Regions from separate parts of the Homo sapiens genome. Here region 2 is linked to region 1. Evidence: fine-mapped expression QTL. Tissue or cell type: esophagus muscle. Region 1 holds a variant in brackets; the other region holds the start of a gene. All regions are shown on one strand. Distances are from middle to middle.

The links. PIP is the estimated chance that this variant, and not a neighbour inherited with it, causes the effect.
Region 2: it holds the start of ELMO3, and the variant in region 1 is fine-mapped to the expression of ELMO3 in esophagus muscle (GTEx, PIP above 0.99).

What each region holds. Positions count from the first base shown.
Region 1 is chr16:67,018,738-67,026,836 of GRCh38, forward strand. It overlaps the pseudogene RN7SL543P. Among named protein-coding and RNA genes, the nearest start is that of CBFB, 6.4 kb to the right of the region's middle. The variant T/G (reference allele first, on the strand shown) is at 3,753.
Region 2 is chr16:67,194,862-67,202,960 of GRCh38, forward strand. ELMO3 (engulfment and cell motility 3) reads left to right here and starts at 4,270. Exons shown (of 20, transcript NM_024712.5): 1 at 4,270-4,543; 2 at 4,692-4,732; 3 at 4,823-4,895; 4 at 5,090-5,140; 5 at 5,331-5,500; 6 at 5,590-5,689; 7 at 5,796-5,947; 8 at 6,029-6,107; 9 at 6,524-6,574; 10 at 6,659-6,781; 11 at 6,881-7,012; 12 at 7,116-7,217; 13 at 7,315-7,423; 14 at 7,536-7,672; 2 more. The coding sequence starts at 4,466. E2F4 (E2F transcription factor 4) reads left to right here. Exons shown (of 10, transcript NM_001950.4): 6 at 1-119; 7 at 921-1,145; 8 at 2,738-2,785; 9 at 3,006-3,050; 10 at 3,147-4,057. The coding sequence ends at 3,262. MIR328 (microRNA 328) reads right to left here and starts at 7,534; the gene lies at 7,460-7,534. RefSeq lists a silencer at 3,606-3,665.

The DNA.
Region 1 (8,099 bases):
GAAAAAAGAAAAGGAGGCAGGCCACAGGCATTTACTTTTTTTTTTTTTTTTTTTTGAGACGGAATCTTGCTCTGTCGCCCAGGCTGGAGTGCGGTGGAACGATCTCGGCTCACTGCAGCCTCCACCTCCCAGGTTTAAGCTATTCTCGTGCCTCAGCCTCCCAAGTAGCTGGGATTACAGGCATAAGCCACCACACCCAGCTGATTTTTGTATTTTTAGTAGAGATGGGGTCTCGCCATGTTGGCCAGGTTGGTCTAGAACTCCTGACCTCAGATGACCCACCTGCCTTGGCCTCCGAAAGTGCTGGGCTTACAGGTGTGAGCCACTGCACCTGGTTTCAGGCACCCTTTCAGCTCATTGTATGGCATTTTGGCTAGACCTTATGTGAACTCAAATTGTTATCCTGTGCTTCCCTTACTGGCAACGTTTACAGATGGCTTTGTATCAACCAAAGCGTTGTACAACTCATAGCATTTCAGAGCTAGAAGGGACCATAAACAGTGTCATAGCCACCGTTCTTTGAACACTTACAACTTTGTGCTAGACACTAACCCAGGTACCTTCTGATGTTTTTGCCTGCACGGTACAGCCATTCCTTTTCCCGTGACACCACCCTGTCCTCGGCAATTCACCGTGTCCACACCACAGCTCAGGGATGACCAGATAACCCAGACTTGGACTATTAAGCTCAATCTCAAGATTTTTGTAGAAACATCAGGAAAGAGAATGGGTACCACTTGAGGGTGAGTCAGCATGTGAAGGAAGGTAAAACGGAAAACTAGCCAGGTACAGTGGCATGTGCCTGCAGTCCCAGCTACTCGGGAGGCTGAGACGGGAGGATTGCTTGAGCCCAGGAGTTCTGGGCTGTAATTCACTATGTTGATTAGGTGTCTGCACTAAGTGTGGCATCGATATGGTGATCTCCTAGGAACGAGGGACCACCAGGTAGCCTAAGGAGGGGTGAACCAGCCCAGGTCGAAAATGGAGCAGGTCAAAACTCCTGTGCTAATCAGTAGTGGGATCGTGCCTGTGAGTAGCTGTTGCACTCCAGCCTGGGCAATATAGCAAGACCTCATCTCCAAAAAAAAAAAAAAAAAAAGGAATAGTGAAATGAAATAGTTCACACTGAGAAACAGCCTTGAACGAATAAAATAAAATAAAATAGGCTGGGCGCTGTGGCTCACACCTGTAATCCCAGCACTTTGGGAGGCCGAGGAAGGCGGATCACTTGAGGCCAGGAGTTCAAGACCAACCTGAGCAGCAATATAGCAAGACACCCCCACCTCTAAAGAAAAAAAAAATTAAAGAGTTAAGTGACTGCATTTCTTCAACTGCAGGACTTCTCTGGGATCTCTCTCTCTCTGAGTCTACCTGGCTATATGCCCTTGAATGAGTCCAGTCACCTGTTCTGAGTCTCAATTTCAAGAGCTACAAAATAAGACAGTAATTATTTCCCTCTTTATCCTTTATTTATTTATTTAATTTTTTATTTTTTATTTTTTGAGATGGAGTCTTGCTCTGTCGCCCAGGCTGGAGTGCAGTGGCACAATCTCGGCTCACTGCAAGCTCCGCCTCCCGGGTTCACGCCATTCTCCTGCCTCAGCCTCCCGAGTAGCTGTGACTACAGGCACCCGCCACTACGCCTGGCTAATTTTTGTATTGTTAGTAGAGACGGGGTTTCACTGTGTTAGCCAGGATGGTCTCCATCTCCTGACCTCGTGATCCACCCGCCTTGGCCTCCCAAAGTGCTGGGATTACAGGCGTGAGCCACCGCGCCCGGCATTTTTTTTTTTTTTTTTTTTTGAGATGGTGTCTCGCTGTGTCACCCAGGCTGGAGTGCAGTGGCACGATCTTGGCTCACTGCAACCTCTGCCTCCTGGGGTCAAGCGATTCTACCGCCTCAGCCTCCAGAGTAGCTGGGACTACAGGCATGTGCCACGCCCAGCTATTTTTTTGTATTTTTAGTAGAGACAGGGTTTCACCGTGTTAGCCAGGATGGTCTCAATCTCCTGACCTCGTGATCCCCCCACCTCGGCCTCCCAAAGTGTTGGGATTACAGATGTGAGTCACCATGCCCGGCCTTCCCTCTTTATCTTGAAGAAATTAAGGAGAGGCCAGCGAGAGAGTGTTTGGAAAATTGCTTTATGCAGTGGCTTGTGCCTGTAACCCCAGCACTTTCGGAGGCCAAGGTGGTAAGATTACTTGTGCCCAGAAGTTCGAGACCAGCCTGAGCAACATAACAAGACCCCGTCTCTGGAAGAAAGGAAGGAAGGAAGGAAGGAAGGAAGCAAGCAAGCAAGCATGGATTAGCCAGGTGGAGTGGTGTGTGCCTGTGGTCTCAGCTATTGTGAGACTGAGGCAGGAGGATCACTTGAGCCCAGGAGTTTGAGGCTGCAGCGAGCAATGATGCCACCACTGCACCCCAGCCTGGCTAACAGAATGTGACTCTATATTGAAAAAAGAAAAAGTAACAATTAGCCAGACGTGGTGGTGTGCACTTGTAGTCCCAACTACTCAGGAGGCTGAGATGAGGATCGCCTGAGCCCAGGAGTTGGAAACTGCAATCAGCTAGGATCATGCCACTGCACTTGACTCAGGAAGACCCTGTCAAAAAAAAAAAAAAAGAAGAAAAAGAAAAGAAAGAAAGAAGAGAGAGAGAGAGAAAGAGGAAGAAAGAAAGAAAGAGAGAAAGAAATTCACTGAAGGGAAACCTGGGTTGTTCATCTTTGTGTCCATCTCCGTCACCAACACTACCTAAACTGCAAAGCATGCTGGGAGCTCCCACTGGGCAGGAGGGAGCAAGATGAAGTTAGCATAAGCCGGGACTAGGGAAGCTATCAAGCCTGTGGGATGCCTTTGAGGTAGTTGAGTCCAGTCTTGTCTCATAGGCATTGGTGAGGGCACGCTGAGGGGCAATCATTCTGCCCAGCATAGTTTAGAAAGCCTTGTCAGAGGCCTCTGAATTACATTTTTTTTTTTTTTTTTTTTCTGAGACAGTGTCTCACTCCATTGCCCAGGCTGGAATGCAGTGGCACGATCTCAGCTCACTGCAACCTCCACCTCCCAGGTTCAAGTGATTCTCCTGCCTTAGCCTCCCAAGTAGCTGGGATTACAGGCATGTGCCACCACCCCCAGCTAATTTTTGTATTTTTAGTAGAGACAGGGTTTCACCATGTTCGCCAGGCTGGTCTCAAACTCCCGACCTCGGGTGATCTGCCCGCCTTGTCCTCCCAAAGTACTGAGATTACAGGTGTGAGCCACTGCCCCGGCTCGAACTACTCTTTTTTTTTTTTTTTTTTTTAAAGGCGCTTCACTCTTGTTGCCAAGGCTGGAGTGCAATGGCGCGATCTCAGCTCACTGCAACCTCCGCCTCCCGGGTTCAAGTGATTCTCCTGCCTCAGCCTCCCGAGTAGCTGGGATTAGAGGCATGCGCCACCACACCCGGCTAATTTTGTGTTTTTAGTAGAGACAGGGTGTCTCCATGTTGGTCAGGCTGGTCTCGAACTCCCAACCTCAGGTAATCTGCCCGCCTCGGCCTCCCAAAGTGCTAGGATTACAGGCATGTGCCACCGCGTGTGGAATTATTATTATTATTATTATTTTTAGACAGGGTCTGACTCTGTTGCCTAGGCTGAAGAGCTGCAGTGGCACAATCTCAGCTCACTGCAGCCTCGACCTCCCCACCTCAGATGATCCTTCCACCTCAGCCTCCTGGGTAGCTGGGACTACAGGCTTGCACCACCATACCCAGC[T/G]AATTTTTTGTATCTTTTTGTAGAGATGGGGTTTCATCATGCTGCCCAAACTGGCCTCGAGCTCCTGGGCTCAAGCCATTCACCTGTCTTGGCCTCCCAAAGTGCTGGGCTTACAGGCATGAGCCACTGAGCCTGGCCTCTCTAAACTACACTTAATGAAGAGTGTGAATTGGTCTGGCCAAGAAAGGGGAGAAAGACAAGCTAGACAGAGGGAAGTTAGCCAGGCCTGGAGCAGACCAAAGCTGAATTCCTTGCCTATTTACTCAGTAGTGTCATCTCAAGGAAAAGAACGATTGTCTGCTTTCTAAATTGCCCTTTTTGTGTTCCTGGAGGGGAGGCAGGCTGGTGAGGTGTCCGTGGGCTAGTAATTATTTCTGCTTATTTACAAGGTAATATTACAGCATGATGAGAAAGCCTGCCTGTTTTGATGGTTCCAAGCTTGGAAAGTTTGGGAAAGAATCCAAGAACATGGCAGGTTATCAAGGCGTTATCAGCTGGGACACAAAAGGAGAGAAGGTAAAAGAGGCATTTGGATTCCAGAGTCAATAATGAGCCAGAAGTGAGTGTTGAATTATTCAACCTCCTGTATTGATCCATTGATCTCTATCTGCAGCTCTTGGTTTATTCTTGGTTGGCATTTCCTGTGTCTCAGACACTGATAAGAGAAATGGAAGGAGGAGGAGGAACAGATTCTTAAGACTCAAGAAAAGAGAAGAGGTGATGTCAAAGAGAAATTTGGCAACATACATCAGGAATCTTAAAATGTCCATATCTTTTGACCTAGTGGTTCTACTTTTGGAAATTGATCCTAAAAATACTATCCAGAACTTTTTTTTTTTTTTTTTTTTTGAGGCAGAGTCTCACTCTGTTGCTTGCCCAGGCTGGAGTGCAGTGGCGCGATCTTGGCTCACTGCAAGCTCCGCCTCCCGGGTTCACGCCATTCTCCTGCCTCAGCCTCCTGAGTAGCTGGGACTACAGGCGCCTGCCACTATGCCCGGCTAATTTTTTGCATTTTTAGTAGAGGCAGGGTTTCACTGTGTTAGCCAGGATGGTCTCCATCTCCTGACCTCATGATCCGCCCACCTCGGGCTCCCAAAGTGCTGGGATTACAGGCGTGAGCCACTGCACCCGGCCTGTATGTCCTAAATGTTCTACAAAAAAAGTACAAGTTTTAAATAACTTTAAAAAGTTTTAAGGGTGAGGGGAGAGACCCTCATATGAAGGCTTCACAGTAAAGTAAACAAATTAGTGTAGAACTAAATCCTCCTAGAATCCAGGGGACTGCTATGTCCCAGGTGGGCTGACCATCTCCTTGGCCATAGCATGGAGCCAAATGAATAAATGGATGCTGTGGGGCAGTCATTCCATGGAGGACAATCAGAGGCCGGTGAACATATTTAAAGAAGAAGTACAGCCTGGACAACATAGTGAGACCCCATCTCTAAAAAAAAATTTTTTTTTATTAATTACCCAAGCATGGTGGCACCTGTAGTCCCAGCTACTTGCTACTTGCTACTCAGGAGGCTGAGGTGGGAGGATTGCTTGACCCCAGGAGGTCAAGGCTGCAGTAAGCCATGATTGCACCACTGCACTCCAGCCTGGGTGAAACAGGAAGACCCTGCCCCAAAAGAGAAAGAAAGAAGAAAGATGAGTTTTCCCAACAGAGAAACAGGAGGAAGTCATGGTATGGGCACGTAGGGAATGGAAACAGGCCAGTATGGCTGGATTGCAGGGTGCCATGGGGAGAAACGATGGGAGATAGTGTTGGAAAGTAGGGATTGTCAGGGGGTCATAAATGCTAGGCTGAGGGCCTTTGTCTTTCTGCCCCAAGTTTCTTCAATCTTGGGGGAGGGGTCTTAAGCAAAAGGGTGGTGTGGTTAGAGCTCATCCCAGCTCTCATCACATTATATTATTATTATTACTACCATTATTATTGTTATTACCATTATTTTTATTCCCTAGCCCCTTAGTCTAGTCTGTTTCCCATCACTTGTCAGAAACTAGGAGAGCAGGGGAGGGGAAGGGGAGCAGTCCAAGGCAGCCCTCTAAGATCATCAGCCAGGCTTCCTGACCCCAGCTTGGCCCTCTTCCCACCACAGTAGGCTCAGTCCTGCCATCCCCAGGCACCCAGACAAACTCCTCCACCCCCAACCCCCATGACAAAGAGGCTCATTTGGAGCCCGGGCAAGATTTGCAAACGTCAAACTTATAATTACAAGGATGAAATCATCTGGTTCCTTTTAAGCAAACGGGTTTATTGATCCCAACACTAAAGAAATGCTATTCTGGGGAAACTTGCTCCTCTCTGCTTTCCTTTCCCTATGGGATGGCTGAGCTGGGGGAGGGTGGCTAGAGGGCTCAGAAGGGGGAGATGCCCCTGGGAGGGAGGGGAGATTCTCTGGGCCCAAGGGTGGATTTTACGGTATATAAATTATATCTCAAAAAGAAAAAAATTCTTTAGGGCCCAGGAAACTGCCACACTTGGGCAGATGACACCCTCATCCTGAATTAAGGCCCATTGCCTTCTAAAAACTAGAAGCTGAGTGGAGCCAGGGTTTTAGGCAATGTGCCAGCCACTAATTTTCCTTGTCTCCCACTCCTCTCAAGTCTCATTTGTGGCTCCAGATCCTATTTCAGCTTCAAGATGGTACAATATTTTCTCAGTAACTGAAGGGAAACTATTTCCTTAGAAAAAATGCATCAGAGGCTCAGAGACTTCCTCTGTGAGGAGAGGCAAAGGTGGGTGGCTGCTGACACCAGACCTGGATAAAACCATCCTTTCTGCTGGGCCTGCAGAGGCAGGACATCTAGACTTTGACCTTCCAAGCCAAGAAGGGACAAACAGGCTCAGAGATAGGAATGCACAGTCCTCAAGGGCAGACCCACATCCTGCCACAAGGCCCAAAATAGAACCCCTTTCTTCAACCTGTGGGGACCCTTCTAGAACATGGTGGGGTGCTCCCAGAGGAATAACCCCAGACATAGCCTTCTATGAGTTTGCAGTTCAGTGAGGGCAGCAGGCAGGACTTTTGGTATCTCCACTAGGTCTCAGAGTAGAATGATTAAAATCACCACCCTGGGGTCACTTAACCCCTGTGAATCTCCGTTGGCCCATCTGTAGAATAGGATCAATAATACTAAACTTACAGGGTTGTGGTGAGGAAGGAATGAAGATGATGTATCCCAATGCTTAGCTAGTTTCTTTAGAGTCGGGGGAGGGTCTCACTCTGTTGCCTAGGATGGCCTCAAACTCCTGGCCTCAAGTGATCCTCCCACTTCCACTTCCCAAACTACTGAGATTACAGGTGTGCACCACCATGCCCAGCCCCCATTTTGTTATTTCAAATGGATCAGGGTCTCGTCACTGTCCTTTTTTACTTTTACTTTTTTTTTTTTTTTTTTGAGGCAGAGTCTTGCTCTGTCACCCAGGCTGGAGTGCAGTGGTGCAATCTCGGCTCACTGAAACCTCTGCCTCCCGGGTTCAAGTGATTCTCCTGTCTCAGCCTCCAGAGTGGCTGGGATTACAGGCACACGCTGCCACGCACAGCTAATTTTTTGTATTTCCGTGGAGACCGGGTTTCACTGTGTTGCCCAGGCTGGTCTCGAGCTCCTGAGCTCAGGCAATCCACCCGCCTCAGCCTCCCAAAGTGCTAGGATTACAGACGTGAACCATCGCTCCTGGCCTTATTTACTTTTTCAAAGTCTGTTTCCTCATCTCTCAGGAGACAGAAGACCTGACTTAGAAGATGGTTGTGTGGGCCGGGCGCGGTGGCTCACGCCTGTAATCCCAGCACTTTGGGAGGCCAAGGCGGGCAGATTGCCTGAGGTTGGGAGTTCGAGACTAGCCTGCCCTTCTCTACTAAAAATACAAAAATTAGCTGGGCGTGGTGGCAGGCGCCTGTAATCCCAGCTACTCAGGAAGCTGAGGCAGGAGAATCGGTTAAACCCGGGAGGCAGAGGTTGCAGTGAGCCGAGATTGCACCATTGCACTCCAGCCTGGGCAACAGAGTGAGACTCCGTCTCAAAAAAAAAAAAGAAAGTGGTTGTGTGAATTAACTGTGATAAGGTGCATGAAGGCACCCTGAACAGAGCTTCACAGTTGCACTAGGCAAGTGAGGGTTCCTGCGCTCTCCTCAGCTTCATTGTGTATTATCTACTTACCCACCCAAGATCAGCTTTAGGAGCCTGCAGGAGCAGCCACCCACCTAGGAAGTTAGGGAGATACTCAAGAGGAGGCCCTTGGTTGGCTTGAATCCTTACGAAAGGAAGATTCCAGATGACCGGACTTCAGATAATTCAGTCAGGTTTTGGGACGGTGGGGGCAGATGTTTCTTGGCACAGAAAAGA
Region 2 (8,099 bases), 180 kb after region 1:
GCCTGCCCTAGCCCAGTCCCAGGAAGCCTCACGTCCAAATAGTCCTCAGCTCACTCCCACTGCTGTCCCTGGCAGTGCAGAAGTCCAGGGAATGGCTGGCCCAGCAGCTGAGATCACAGGTGAGGCACCATGGGAGCTTGTGACAGAGGCCCAAGAGGTAGTATCTCTGTGTTGTGGAACACCATGCTCAGAGTTGGAAGAGACTCTTCAGGTTGGGGATTGTCCTTTTCCTGACCACCTAGCCTTCCCTTGCTATGGTAATGAATGAGCCTTTTTTGTTTTTGTTTTTGAGACGGAGTCTCACTGTGTCCCCCAGGCTGGAGTGTGCAATGGCGCGATCTTGGCTCACTGCAACCTCTGCCTCCCAAGCTCAAGAAATTTTCCTGCCTTAGCCTCCTGAGTAGCTGGGATTACAGGCGCCCACCATGCGCAGCTAATTCTCGTACTTCTAATAGAGATGGGGTTTCACCATGTTGGCCAGGCTGGTTTCGAACTCCTGACCTCAAATGATCTGCCTGCCTCGGCCTCCTGTAGTGCTGGGATTACAGGCTTGAACCACCATGCCTGCCTGAATGGGCCCTTTTTAACAGGGAACCTCTGACTGTGGGAAGAGCCATTGCTGGTGGCAGTTTTCTCCCCCAGATCCACATCCACTGGTGTCTCAATTGCCCTGGTAGCCCGTCTTGAAGTATGGCCACAGCAGACATGTTGACCACGAGTCTTCTTCTGTAGGTCTTGTGTCCCTGTCTCCTGTGGTGACTAATTTCAGGTTACTTCCTCTGGGGGTGACTGGCAATGCCTAATTCTCCTTGGGTCTGGGAACCAGGCTTGTGGTCCTCCTGTGTCTGGGTTCCAGCACAGCCAGTTTCAACGACCTCTTCCTGACCTTGTATGACTGGGTTTGGGGGCTATCATTGTAGTGAGTGGCGGCCCTGGGACTGATAGCAAGGACAGTGGTGAGCTCAGTTCACTCCCACTGGGCCCAACAACACTGGACACCCGGCCACTGCAGTCTTCTGCCCTGCTGGACAGCAGCAGCAGCAGCAGCAGCAGCAGCAGCAGCAGCAGCAACAGTAACAGCAGCAGTTCGTCCGGACCCAACCCTTCTACCTCCTTTGAGCCCATCAAGGCAGACCCCACAGGTGGTGAGTACCTGCCCCCTGGGGGCAGAGAGAGAGAGTCTAGCCTCAGTCCAGTCCTAGGTCAGAAAACAGAATTGGGGATGGAACCCAGATCTCCTGTCAACCCTGCTGGACACGAGAGCTCTCTGCCAGCACCTCTGGGTCAGTGCTGGTGCCCCCTCTAGCACCCCATCCTAGGCTAACACAGAACTCCCTGCCGTCTCTCAAGCCCTTTCCTGCCACCCCTTGGAGCACCGCCTCACTAATTGACACTTCTCTGTATCACTCTCTCTCATCTTCTCTGTCTCCTTTCTGTCTGGACTCCTTGAAAAAGTAATCTCCATTCATTAGTCTCCTAGTCACCTTTCAGGTTGCAGCAGTCACCCCCCCAGCCCCAGTGTTACAGCGGTGTTACTCTTGAGAAGCTGCCGAAGGCCTGCCGAGCCCAGCAGCCTCCAGCGTGTTTTGCTGGTGCTCTCTTGGTCTGTGTCAATATTCTTTCCTCCTTTGGCATCATGATGCCAGCTTTTGGCTCTCCTATCTCACTGGCTTCTTGAACTCTTCCCTGGCGTGTCCTTAAACATTGCTGTTTTTGAGGGCTCTGTCCCATTCCACTCCTGGAGAGGGCTGCAGCTCTGGGTGAACGAATCCCCAGCCTCCGCCTGGCCTAGATCTTTTCCCAATCTGCACACTTCGGTGTCCACCTGCCGTCCTGTGTACATCCAATGGACACTTTATTCCTGCATGTCCTCAACTGAACTTAGTTTCCTCCCGAAGCTTGCTTTCCACCTCTGCGCACCCAGCCGTCAGCCCTAGTTATCCAGGCCTGACCCTTGGCTCTCACTCTAGTTCTAGTTCCTTATCCCTCCTCCTTCTGCTGCCCACCCCATGCCAGCTAACTGAGGTCTGTCCCAGATGTCCCCTCCTATCCTCTGGTATCCTCAGCACTCAGGATGACCCCTGGCCACCTCTGTCCTGGATTCTTCAGCATCTTTCTCTTTACCCTGACTGACAGACTAATCTTTCTGAAATGCAGGCCTGACAGAAAAATGTGGCATTTCTCTGTTTGCAAAAGTACCTTTAATGGCTCCTTGAGGGCCACCAGATAAGATCTGAACTCCTGAGCCTGGCATGTGAAATCCCTCATAGTCCTCTCTGGTTGCATTTTCTTCTGCTTCCCCTGTGTCCTCCTGGCCAGAGGTTTGTAGTGGAGTCATCACCCTGTAGCGCCACCACCTCTGCCTGGTGACCTGACCCAGGGTCTGGTCTCAGTCTTGCACAGAGCAGGTGCTCAGCAAGGGTGGGACAGATGGGGTACCTTCTGTCAGACAGGGGGTGCATGCTGAGCCCAGAAAGAGGCTTCTGTGGCCTTTCCGAGTTAGAAAAGCTGTACCAATCGCTTGCAGGGGGCCTTTGGTACCCTGGGCTCAGCACTGAGGAATTCAGGTTTAGCAAGTGAGGCCAACAGACAGTGCCAGCTTGGCCTAGGCAGGACCTACATCTCCTTAGCTGTGTGGAGCCTCAGGGTGGGTGGTATAGGATCCGAGGAAGCCAGGGGGCTGTAGTGGGGCCAGGCTGGACCTCTGTGCCCTGAGCATGGCTTTCTTGTTTTTCAGTTTTGGAACTCCCCAAAGAGCTGTCAGAAATCTTTGATCCCACACGAGGTAGGCTGCTGCATTCCTCCCTGAGGCTAGGGGTAAGGGACACAGCTCATTGGGTCCTATGGCTGTTTTCTTGCCCTTTTGAGGACCTTGTTGTGGCGCTTATGGTAACTGGGGCAAAGGGTGAAGTTCCTGATGGGCAGGTGGGGTTCCCTTTCCTGGGCTTTGGTGGGTGGAGAGGTGGGAGCTGGAATGTTAGTAACTGAGCTCCCTCCATTCCCAGAGTGCATGAGCTCGGAGCTGCTGGAGGAGTTGATGTCCTCAGAAGGTGGGTGGCCCTGGAAGGTGGGAGTGGGTGTGGGCAGGGGTTGGGCTGCTGCTAGGGGAGCCCTGGCCCAGGGCCTGAGACTAGTGCTCTCTGCAGTGTTTGCCCCTCTGCTTCGTCTTTCTCCACCCCCGGGAGACCACGATTATATCTACAACCTGGACGAGAGTGAAGGTGTCTGTGACCTCTTTGATGTGCCTGTTCTCAACCTCTGACTGACAGGGACATGCCCTGTGTGGCTGGGACCCAGACTGTCTGACCTGGGGGTTGCCTGGGGACCTCTCCCACCCGACCCCTACAGAGCTTGAGAGCCACAGACGCCTGGCTTCTCCGGCCTCCCCTCACCGCACAGTTCTGGCCACAGCTCCCGCTCCTGTGCTGGCACTTCTGTGCTCGCAGAGCAGGGGAACAGGACTCAGCCCCCATCACCGTGGAGCCAAAGTGTTTGCTTCTCCCTTTCTGCGGCCTTCGCCAGCCCAGGCTCGGCTGCCACCCAGTGGCACAGAACCGAGGAGCTGCCATTACCCCCCATAGGGGGCAGTGTCTTGTTCCTGCCAGCCTCAGTGTCTTGCTTCTGCCAGCTCCTTCCCCTAGGAGGGAAGGGTGGGGTGGAACTGGGCACATGCCAGCACCACTTCTAGCTTCCTTCGCTATCCCCCACCCCCTGACCCTCCAGCTCCTCCTGGCCCTCTCACGTGCCCACTTCTGCTGGGCCTTTAGCCCTAGAACCTGCAGGTGGTGGGGGCGGCTACCAAGAAGGAACAGAGGTCTCTGGGGAGGAGTCTGGGTGGTCCAGCCCTGATGATTGGCCCCACCTCCTGCTGCCCCATAACCCTCTCTTCATTTCGGCTTTTTCATTTACCCTCATTTAGAGCCATTTGCAGAGATTTAGAAAGATTTACAGTAACGAATGGATTCCTATATAAAGATTATTTTTATACTTTTTGCAGCAAAAGGAAATTGTAATATTTGTACAGTGTTCAAGTGAATAAAAACCATGCCTAAGGCTAGCTCTGATGTGGTTCTTTGGGGACCCTCCTTGGGACTGTGCTGGACTGGCAGTGTGATTGGGTGGGTCACCTTGCTGGAACTAGGGGTGGGGCGGCCTCCGGCAGCCTGCCCTCCCCGCCCCCACCTGCCGCACCTTGGTGTGGGGCGGGGCCGCCTCGGCGGGGCGGGGCAGGCGGAGCCGTCCTACCTTCCTACCCCCAGACTCCAACCCGGAACTAACCTCGGCTCCCTTGGGAAGGCCGCGTTGCATGGCCAGGAGCAGCAGTCTGGGCCGCGAGTGCGGGACACCGAGGTCAGGTCTCGGAAAGGGAGGACCTCCTCGTCCCCAGGGGCCCCAGGCCAGGTGCACCCTTGGCCGCAGGTGCACGGTCTCCGGAAAGTGCAGGCGCCCACGTCCCAGCTGGACCATGGCGCCTCCGCGGAACGTGGTGAAGATTGCCATCAAGATGCGTGACGCCATCCCGCAGCTCATCCAGCTGGACCAGGTCACCCGGCTGGTCCCGCCTCCATCTGCCCCACTGCCCCACCTCCCGGTAGCCCCCTGGCCCTCGGGGCAGCCCGCCCCACCCCTCCCCCCAGGCTCCTCCCCATCCCTCCCTGCCCAGGCCGCGAGAATGACCACTCCACTTGCAGGCGAAGCCCCTGGCCGCTGTGCTGAAGGAGGTGTGCGACGCGTGAGTGCTGCCGGGCCAGGGCCTGCGGAGGGCGGGAGGGCAGGAGGGGCGGCGCCCCCTGCCGGCCTCGCTGAGCCTCGTGCCCCTCAGGTGGAGCCTGACGCACTCTGAGCGTTACGCCCTGCAGTTTGCGGATGGGCACCGGAGATACATCACCGAGAATGTGAGTCCCCTCTCCCCAGCCCCAAGCTCGGCCTTCCGACCCCTCTAACCCACCTGGCCCCGATAACTCTGGCTCTTCATCCCACTACCGGAGCGCGATCTGTTATTCACCCCCAGCCGCCCTCACCGACACCCCAGTTGATCAGTCCTCGGAGCCCTCCCTGACCTCGCTGCCTTTTCTGCTGTCTTCTCCAGAACCGCGCGGAGATCAAGAATGGCAGCATCCTGTGCCTCAGCACGGCCCCAGTAATGCCCCTCCCGTCCCGCCTTCCCCATCCCTGCCCCTTTGCTCCAGGTCCAGAGGCCCCCCGCCCCGGAGGCCCCCGCCCCAGCCCTGCCTTGCGCCACCTAGTTGACGCCCGGGGCCGCACACTTCCAGGTCCCACCCTTACCATGCCCAGCCTCTTCACCTCTGCTCCTGCTCCGTTCCTGCCAGGACCTTGAGGCTGAGCAGCTCTTGGGTGGGCTGCAGAGTAACAGTCCTGAAGGGCGCCGGGAAGCCCTGAGGCGCCTTGTTCCGCTGGCCTCGGACATGATCTTTGCCAGGGAGGTCATCAGCCGTAATGGGCTCCAGATACTAGGCACCATCATTGAAGATGGGGACGAGTGAGCACAGGGATGTGTGGGCTGGGGGAGATGGTGGGTCTTTCTGGTCCTGGGGTGGTCCTGCTCAGCCCCAGATGTCCCCCCTCCAGCCTAGGAGAGGTGCTGGCCCTCAGCCTGAGGGCCTTCTCAGAGCTCATGGAGCACGGCGTGGTGTCCTGGGAGACTCTGAGCATCCCCTTTGTGAGGAAGGTGGGTGGGCTTTCCTAGGGCAGCGGGTGGGGGCAGTGGAGCAGTGGGGCAGTGGTAGACCCGGTCTTCCATGGGGGTGAGGTGGTGACACCCCCGCCCCTTACAGGTGGTGTGCTACGTGAACATGAACCTCATGGATGCCTCCGTGCCTCCCCTGGCCCTTGGGCTGCTGGAGAGTGTGACCTTGAGCAGCCCAGCCCTGGGCCAGCTGGTCAAGAGCGAGGTGCCCCTGGATAGGCTGCTGGTGCACCTACAGGTGTAAGCCTCTGGGGCTGGGGTCCAGATGCAGGGAGCAGGGCTGGAGCCTGAATGTTCCACTGAGCCCTCTTCTTGCCATAGGATGAACCAGCAGCTGCAAACCAAGGCCATGGCCCTGCTGACAGCCTTGCTGCAGGGGGCCAGCCCTGTGGAACGCAAGGTGAGTGTCGATCGGTGGCTAGATGGGGGCAGCACCCGGTGGGCGCTGCCCCACCCTGAAGCAAAATCCTCTAAGCCCCCCTTTTTTTTTTTTTTGAGATGGAGTCTTGCTCTGTCGCCCAGGCTGGAGTGCAGTGGTGCGATCTTGGCTCACTGCAAGCTCTGCCTCCCGGGTTCACACCATTCTCCTGCCTCAGCCTCCCGAGTAGCTGGGACTACAGGCTCCCGCCACCACGCCCAGCTGATTTTTTTTTTTTTTTTTTTTTTTTTAAGTAGAGACGGGGTTTCACTGTGTTAGCCAGGTTGGCCTCCATCTCCTGACCTCGTGATCCGCCCGCCTTGGCCTCCCAAAGTGCTGGGATTACAGGCGTGAGCCACCGCGCCCAGCCTAAGCCCCCTTTCTTTCTACCCCCTCAGCACATGCTTGACTATCTTTGGCAGAGGAACCTTCGCCAGTTCATCTATAAGGTAGGAAGTGGTGGGCCAGGGGGACCTCTCTGCCCCTCCCTCCCCGTGAGCCCTCGCTTACACCAGGGACTGGCTGTCCTGCAGAACATCATCCACAGTGCAGCACCAATGGGCGACGAGATGGCTCATCACCTGTACGTACTGCAGGCTCTCATGCTGGGGCTGCTGGAGCCGCGCATGCGGACGCCCCTGGACCCCTACAGCCAGGTGTGTGTCTTTGGTGAGGACAAGGCAGGGGGTGGCTTAGAGCTTGGCCTTGAATCTATAATCTTGATCCCCTCCCCCGCCACCCAACACTGACCCCAGGAGCAGCGGGAGCAGCTGCAGGTCCTACGCCAGGCTGCCTTCGAGGTGGAGGGGGAGTCCTCGGGTGCCGGGCTAAGTGCTGACCGTCGCCGTTCCCTCTGTGCCCGAGAGTTCCGCAAACTGGGCTTTTCTGTGAGTATCACCCCTACCCAACTCCCCACCCCTGCCTCAGCCCAGGGCTGTTGTTCCAGGCGGCCGTGGCCCTTCTTGAACTGCCTGTGCCCACTTCCCCCAGAACAGCAACCCAGCACAGGACCTGGAGCGCGTGCCCCCCGGTCTGCTGGCCCTGGACAACATGTTGTACTTCTCCAGAAACGCGCCCAGCGCGTACAGCCGGGTCGGTGACAGGGTAGGGTGGGGGGGTGGCAGCATCCCCCAGGCAGGGTCCCCATGGGCTTAGCTGTGACTCCTTGCCCCATTCTCTGCGCCCCCAGTTTGTGTTGGAGAACAGCAGCCGCGAGGACAAGCACGAGTGCCCCTTTGCCCGGGGCAGCATCCAGCTGACGGTGCTGCTGTGTGAGCTGCTCCGTGTTGGGGAGCCCTGTGAGTGGCCTGGACTGGGCACAGCATGGCCAAGAGCAGGGGACGGAAGGGCAGAGAGGGCCAGGGGCTGTATGCACTTTCTCCCTGAGCCCCTCCTGCCCCCCCACTCCAGGCTCTGAGACAGCCCAGGACTTCTCACCCATGTTCTTCGGCCAAGACCAGAGCTTCCACGAGCTCTTCTGTGTGGGCATCCAGCTGTTGAATAAGACCTGGAAGGAGATGCGGGCTACACAGGAGGACTTCGACAAGGTGGGTGGGGTGGGAGCTGGGAGGCCTGGGCCAGGGCAGGGGGCTGATCTGGGTACAGAGCTTAGGCCCTGAGCTGAGCTTGGGCGGCCCCAGGTCATGCAGGTGGTGCGGGAGCAGCTGGCCCGCACTCTGGCCCTGAAGCCCACTTCCCTGGAGCTCTTCCGAACCAAGGTGAATGCGCTCACTTATGGGGAGGTGCTGCGGCTGCGGCAGACTGAACGGCTGCACCAGGAGGGCACACTGGCTCCCCCTATACTGTGAGTCTGGGGGGATGGATCCTCAGTCCTAGCCCTACCTTCCTTGGTGCCCCCTGGGCTACTCCCCAGGTCAGATGTGCTCAGTGACACCCCTCTATCAGGGAGCTGCGGGAGAAGCTGAAGCCAGAGCTCATGGGCCTGATCCGCCAGCAGCGCTTGCTCCGCCTCTG